Homo sapiens: one gene and its partner. The protein of the gene in region 2 interacts with the protein of the main gene of each other region in a pairwise test. Each region holds a gene or a part of one and is shown on either strand. Other genes may lie near its edges. The genes, in order: UPF1 and UPF3B.

The links.
Region 1: the proteins of UPF3B (region 2) and UPF1 interact in binary tests that used the Homo sapiens proteins (3 or more experiments, as listed by UniProt).

The regions. Positions count from the first base shown.
Region 1 is NC_000019.10:18,859,146-18,862,958, reverse strand, and holds part of UPF1 (regulator of nonsense transcripts 1), read right to left. Parts: intron 2,639-3,813; coding exon 2,521-2,638; intron 2,134-2,520; coding exon 1,977-2,133; intron 950-1,976; coding exon 807-949; intron 1-806. UniProt on the Homo sapiens protein: RNA-dependent helicase required for nonsense-mediated decay (NMD) of aberrant mRNAs containing premature stop codons and modulates the expression level of normal mRNAs.
Region 2 is NC_000023.11:119,839,374-119,843,186, forward strand, and holds part of UPF3B (regulator of nonsense transcripts 3B), read right to left. Parts: intron 2,406-3,813; coding exon 2,362-2,405; intron 1,886-2,361; coding exon 1,703-1,885; intron 1,312-1,702; coding exon 1,273-1,311; intron 1-1,272. UniProt on the Homo sapiens protein: Involved in nonsense-mediated decay (NMD) of mRNAs containing premature stop codons by associating with the nuclear exon junction complex (EJC) and serving as link between the EJC core and NMD machinery.

The DNA of each region.
Region 1 (3,813 bases), on a different chromosome or scaffold from region 2:
GCGCATATGAGCCGGAAGGAGCACCAGGCTCTCTCCCTGTGCTGGGTGGAGCCACAGGCCAGGTCCCCCCAACTTCCAGCTGGTGAATGGGTCCTTGCTGTCTAGTGTTTTTTTTTTTCCTTTGGAGACAGAGTTTTGCTCTTGTTGCCCAGTGGCTGGAGTGTAATGGCGCAATCTCGGCTCACCACAACCTCCTCCTCCCAGGTACAAGCGATTCTCCTGTTTCAGCCTCCCAAGTAGCTCAGATTACAGGCATGTGCCACCACGCCCGGCTCATTTTTTTGTATTTAGTAGAGAGGAGGTTTCACCATGTTAGGCTGGTCGAGAACACCTGACCTCAGGTGATCCACCTGCCTCGGCCTCCCAAAGTGCTGGGATTACATGTGTGAGACACCATGCCTGGCCTGATGTCTAGTTTTATGTGGGATGACAGAATGGACACCTTGTTCTCGGGGTCCCTTCTGCTATCATCAGTTCACAAAAGTTGTATTTTAGAACCAAAAATAGTGGACAGGACCAAAACTTACAGCCTCTCAGATTAAACAACTTGACAGACACACACAAGATTTATTTTGAATCAGACCAGAAGGGCCTGGAAAAATACGTCCTGCTGGGCTGAGGCACAGGGGCCACAGCAAACCCCCAGGACACGGAAACAAAGATCTCTCCAGTGAGACATCGTTTCTCAACTGCTGCTCAGAGTCCTCTGACCTCTGGCCCTGGCAACCCCCAACCCTAGCCCCAAATTCCCTGGGAAGTGAGGACCGATGAGCGGCTGGGCAGCATGCAGCAGGCAGCCTCCCTACCTTGCTCTGGTCAGGGCCACGTTCAGACGCCTGGGGTCATTTAAAAAGCCAATGCCTTGGTGCTCGTTGGCCCGCACACAGGACAGGATGATGAAGTCCTTCTCGCGTCCCTGAAAGGCGTCCACACTGGCGATCTCCACCTCCTGGAAGGGAGCTTTGTGGTCACTATCAGCCAGCAGGCTGCCTTCCCAGTCCCCCCAAAATGCAGGAAACACACCAAGACCCACCCTCAAATCCCACCCGGGAGCTTGGGGCCTGGCGCCTGCTCACCGCACCTAGGGGCTGTCCTGGCTCTGCTGCCATTTCGTTTTGTTTTCTTTTTTTAGAGACAGGATCTTGCTCTGTCACCCAGGCTAGAGTACAGTGGTACAATCTCAGCTCGCTGCAGCCTTGACCTCCCAGGCTCAGCTGATCCCACCTCAGTCTCCTGAGTAGCTGGGACCATAGACACATGCCACCATACCCAGTTATTATTTTTTTTTGGTGGAGGCAGGGTCTCCCTACGTTGCCCAGGTTGGTCTGGAACTCCTAGCCTCAAGCGACTTCCCTGCCTCAGCCTCCCAAAGTGCTGGGACTCCAGGTGTGGGCCATGACACCTAGCCTGTTCTCTTTTAGCCACGGAGATTTGTTTCTCAGCACTAAGAGCACACGTGCTCATCCCAGAGAACCTGAGCCGTGCTCAAAAACAGAACAGAAACCACTGCCATGTGGCCACTCAGACTCAGCACTTGGGCTCATTTCCTCATGGAGGCAGAGCTGTGCCTCCTCCCCACACACCCGCAGTGGGTGTTTCATCCGGGTGTCAATAAAGGTGTGAACACCACGGTCTCCACAGCACAACATCCAGTGTGTGGCAGGCACAGACCACTGCCGTTCCACCTTGGACTTGTTTCAACCATCCCGAGAAAACACCTTGATGTGCCAATCTCAGCCCATGTTTCTGATCCCTGTGATGTATTTCTCAAAGTCTCTGTCCTGATCATGTGGAATTTCGCAGGGTCTGTGGGGATGTGCTGTCTGTGCCCTCCCCAGAGGGTGGGCCAGCTGGTGCTTCCTGGGCCATTCTGAGCTCCAGCCAGGACGGGCCCCTCTTGGGGGGTAACTTAAAGGTCAAGGGTCAATACCCTTGCATGGCCCAGGAGACCAAGTGTGCCCGAGGGCGCAGCGCACCTGGTAGAGCTTGGTGTGCAGGGAGCCGCTGAACTGCATGTACTGCACCAGGTAGGAGCGCTGGCCCTCGTAGGGCGTGATGATGCCAATCTGGTCCGGCTTGGCGCCTGCCTTCAGCAACTTCGTGGTGATCTTCTCCACGTTCGCAGCCTCGGTCCTAAGAAACCCAGGCTGTCAGTGCTGGGCTCCACCTGTGGGATCCCGAGCCCTGAGGCTGGAGGCCGTGAGGGGTGCAGACACAACACCCTGCGGGAAGGCAGCTGCCATCACTGGCGTTTGCACAGCTGAGCTTCCCCAGCCTTCACCAGGGGAGTCTCGAGGGGCAGAAACGGCTGCCATGTGGGATTAGCAAGTATCTGCCCAATAAAAAACAAGTACAATGGAAAAGGAGGCAGAAACAACACGGTTTAGAGTCTAAACAGGCTAAACAGGAAATGAAGGCAAAAAAAGTTTCAGTCCCATGTTAAAAATAAGTAGAATGGGTCAACAACCTCTCAAGCTGTCCCCAAGACCTGCAGACGCCGGTGGGCCTGTCCCTGCTCACCTGTTCAGGTAGGAGGTGCCCGAGCTGGCAATCTCCTCTTGGCCCTGGGTCACGTAGAAGAACATCGGTTTATCGGGTTGGGGCCACTGGAAGTCAAATCCCTTCTTCACACGATCCGCTGTGAGGGGAGGGAAAGAAGTAACACTTCAAAAGCCCTAGCCCGCCTCAAATGAGTTCAGACACAGGGCAATGTAGTTGCTACGCTACAGTGCTGCAGGTCCTGGGGCAGGAGACTTCGATCTGTGAGGCCCTGGTGAGGTCACCTGAGCCGGTCCCCTGGCCAGAGATGCCCAGGATTGGGCAAGGCTGAGGAGAGGCCACCGAGAGCACCATGGCCAGCACAGAGCTGGCTCAGCCCCTGAACAGGGAACAGGGTCTCAGCCAGGGCTTTCTTGCAGCCTGGATCTCTGCCAACCCCAGGATACAGGATATTCTCCTGCTTCCTTCCAGAAGCTTGCCTTAAAGGCGCCACAGCCCCTACAACTGACTTGTGTGTGACACTGTTGAGCCAACAGTGTCCCCCTGCCCTGCAGCCTTGTCCATTCCTGCTGAGGGCCTGTTGACCGGTGGCTCTGCCTCTGGGCTCCCTCCTGGGCCGGGGCCCAACACTGCAGCTTGGGGGCCGGGGCGTCCTGCCATGTGAGCAGCCACTTTCTTCGGGCTCTTCATGCTCATCTTGGCTTTTCTGGGCCCTGTTGCGTTTCCTTAAAACTGTAAAACCAGTTTCTCAATTCACAGGTGCCCTCCTCACTCTACTGGGAGCTTCCATCAGTGGAGAAAACCGGTGTTTTTGCACAGCACCAGCCTGACATGGACAGAGGAAGCCAGACACGCCAGGACACATCATATGATCCCACGTCGAGCTGAAAATGAGGCCAAGTGGATCACTGCTGTTACAGCGAGCACAGGGGCCGCCGGATGAGCTCAGAAGTCCCTCAGCCCAGGGGCTGCTGTGGATGCGCACCCCTGGACAGTGGCCACCTGCAGGGATGAGGCGGCTTCTCACAGCTGGTCAGGTGGTTCTGGGTTCAGGTGCTGGCTATCCAAATATGCTCACTTAGTAACCACTCATTGAGCCAGACACTTGTAATGTGGCCACATGTTTACACTTCAATAGAGAATTTCCTAAAATGTACTTCCTGGGTGTGAACTACGTGCTGTGCATCAATTAGAGAGCAGTGTGCACCAGCGTCTGCCCTCTGGGCCGATGCCCTGGGGACCATGAGGGGTCTGAGCCTGCGCCGAGCCACGCCTTTCCCAGCCAGTGCTCAGACACCCCAGAGCACAAGCTAG
Region 2 (3,813 bases):
TGATTTAAAAATCTAAAGGCCTTATACAACCAAATAGTGAAGTTCCATCTCTACTGAGTAGGAACTCTGTATTTAATGCCATATTTACGCATGTTCAAAAATGCCATTGTTTTTTACATTGCTGCTATGAATCTCTCGAGAATACCTCCAAGTGTCGGATAATCAGAGAGATTCTTAGGCAAAATAGAAGAATTTCAAGTCTCAGAGTGAAGGTATCACACAAGGTTCATCTCAGGGTGAAGGCATCATGTAAATTACTAAGCAAAAGGCAAAGCACCACAAGACATAAGCACAAAGCATTTTGGCACACAGACAGCCACTGCAAATGGTGAGTCCAAAATGGACACTGAGAAGGCACCAGTGTAAAATGAGGATACCATGTGCAGGTTTCATTGGAAGTGCTCTTATTTCTCCAATGAACATCCTTATTAGAAACCAAGGTGTTCATTACTCTAATAAGAACATTAATGAATGTCTCTAGCATGGCTGGCTCTACCTTCTGCCTTGCTGATTGTTAGGAATAGCAAGTCAAGTCACTTGTGGCATAGCAGACAGAGAGATTGCTGGAAAGAATTAAGATGAGAAACTCCATCCTCCCCCAAGCCCCTCATCATCAGTAATGAGCCCCGTAGAGACTTAGGGAACCCTTGCTACATAAACTGCTGAGTTTTCAGGAAATAAAATAAGGAGACCCTGCCACCCTCTCTGTGAGATTTTCTTTGACTTTATCTGAAGTGCTAGGTACTAGTACTTCCCCAGGAAATATGTTGAAACAAGGGCTGCCCAAGCCATGCCCTTAGAAGGGAAGTGGCAAGGTTGGGATCTTTCTGCAGGTTTTCTTCTTCCCAAATGCAATGCATGAATCCGAATCTGCTGCTCACAGATTCCCAGATATATGCAGGAAGATACTACGGGAGTCATGTGAGAGGGAAAGGCACATATTGCAGGGTATTTATCCCTAGTCCTCCCACAAGGCAGCCAGTTATGAGAAGCATATAAGAAGATGAGAAAGAACTATATAGGCATGGTTGTCCTCTGGCTGTAGGTCAATGAAGCTTCTGGGCACACAGCAGAGCATCAGGAAGTCACCTGGGCTTCCTTTTAAAGTAGAAATTTATAATAAAATAGCTCAGCTTTTAAGAAGACTCAAGTCAACCTGAAGGGGTTTTCAACAAGTAACACTACCACCACCACCACCAAAAGGACTTATTAGCTAAGACCTGTGTGTGTGACATGATACTAGATGCTCTGTATCATGTACTTGGTCCTTACATTTTTCTGATTCACAGCTTGTAACAGAAACCTGTGTACCTGAAGACAGTGGAAAACAAACAGATGAGGTAACTTCATGTATCAATTATGAAGAAAAAGCTGAAAAAAAACCATAAATCATGCCAGCCAGCCCTAAGCCCTCATTTACTATGAATTTAGAGGACAATAGTCTAAAAATCCAACATTTTCAATGACAAAAACAGCACAGATCTGCACTGAAGAAATAACATACTACTTTATCCTTTTAAATGATCTTAAATTTAAAAACTAATACTATTACAGGAAAGATTTTTATTGGATCACTTCCCCCCAAAAGAGAACAAAAACAAAACAAAAAATTCATTTACACCAACACAAGACGCATGCATATTTAAAGAAGTAGATACGTGCAATTTTTAGCAACATGCAGTCAGTTTCAACATTCTTATACCTTAATCTTTGGTTCATCCTTTAATTTGTCCCTTTCTGGAATTCTGTCTATCTTCTTTAGCTTTTCTATATCTTTCCTTTTTCGTTTCTCTTCTTCTTTCCATTTCCTCCTCTCTTCTTCTCTTTGTCTTTTTCTTTCTATTTCTCTCCTCCTCCTTTCTTCTCTCTTTTCTTCTCTCATTCTCTAGAAAGAAACATCAACACAAGCCTTCAAATAAAATAATCATCACCAAAACCCTAATAAATCCTGAAGTCATGGTAGGCCCCAACTGAATAATCTTTCCTTCCTACTTTCTACAAAGTGGCATTCTACCACCGTTATCCCCACTCCACCCAGAAAACGAAAGACAATGAAGACCAGAACCTGCTAATATTATTCTTCCACTGCTGCCTTACTATCTCTCCAGAGGCTTTCAGAATATCAAATGAGTGTCTCTGGGACAACCTAAGAACATTCCACGTTTGTAGAGTGAACTCCTGGTCCAACAACCAGAGTGAAGGAGCAGGCTAGAGAGTGAGACCAAGAAGGCAAATCCTTAAAGAGTAATGGTGGAAAAAGCAGCTATTTCTCCTCTAGAAACCCAATGCTCTTAAAATGTTTATAGAATGCAAAGCAAAGAAATTAAAGTATTGAGAGAACTATAAAGACAAAAGATTTACCTGCTTGTTTTTCAGGAAGCTCAAAAGTGGGGTTGTCTTTTTAGCTACATAAATGTAAACAGATTATTAATCATACTTATCAACCCCTAGAAACGATTCCATTTTCTGACATTCCCTGCCAACCACCCAAGGTGGGAAAACATGTACACCCCTTATGCAGAAAGATCACAATTGTAATATCAGAAAGAAGTTTTACAGCATTCGATTTCAACAATACGGGATTAAAATACCTTTTAAAAAGTAAAGAAATTCAAATTAAAACAACAAAATAATTTATTAAAAGAGTCATTCCCAACTGATGAGAATTAAGTACTTAGGACATTCTCTTGTTTTACTGATAGGAGTGTAAACTTGTTCAACTGGAAGAAGTTGGGGGGAAGGGGCTAAAAATATCTAATCCTTTTGACCCCATAATTCCACTTCTGGGAATTTATTCTAAGAAAGTTACCAGAAATAGGCTTGTACTATCCATCTATTAATAAAAGTCAAGTTTTGGAAGAATATTTTTCATTTTCAACATTCTGAATAAGCTATTGGCCTTACAGCCATCTTAAAACACATATTCCTGGCCGGGCACAGTGGCTCATGCCTGTAATCCCAGCACTTTCAGAGGCCAAGGCAGGCGGATCACTTGAGGTCAGGAGTTCGAGATCAGCCTGGCCAACATGGTGAAACCCCGGCTCTACTAAAAATACAAAATTGGCCGGGCGTGGTGGCGGACACCTGTACTTCCAGCTACTCGGGAGACTGCGGCAGAATCGCCTGAACCCAGGAGGCGGAAGTTGCAGTGAGCCGAGATTGCGACACTGCACTCCAGCCTGGGCGACAGAGCAAGACTCCATCTCTCACACACACACACACACACACACATACACACACACACACACACACACACAGAGAGAGAGCGAGCGAGCAAGCAAGCAAAAAAAACAAACAAACAAACAAAAAAACCCCACATATTCCTTAGGATAAATTCCTGAGTAGAAATCCTGGGTCAAAGATTATGCTCATGTTTAGAGCTACTGATACAGTAGTGACAGCCTATTACTGAGAACCAAGATCCAAGCTAGAATTCCTCAAGTAGTTTTCAATTTTGCAGTAACTAATTTCATTTTTTCGTATTTTCAAGTCAAAATTTTTTTAGGAATATGAACTTATTACTAGAAAATACCAATTGACCTTCAAAGGCTTACCACTGTCTAAACATTCCTTATCAGTCATCGAACTTTTTGTATTTATATTACATTTGTGTGAAACTAAATAGGTCAAAGAATTTTTCCCACTTTAATGGATTCTCATAATGCTGTGAGGCAGGTATTACCATCTGCAATTTACAGTAACAGTCTCAGAGAAACTAGTAACTTCCCTGAAGTCACACAGCTAGCAACTGATGGAGGTAGGAGACTTAGGTACTGTGATGAAAAGACTGTTGCCCTGATTCTTTTTGCCCAC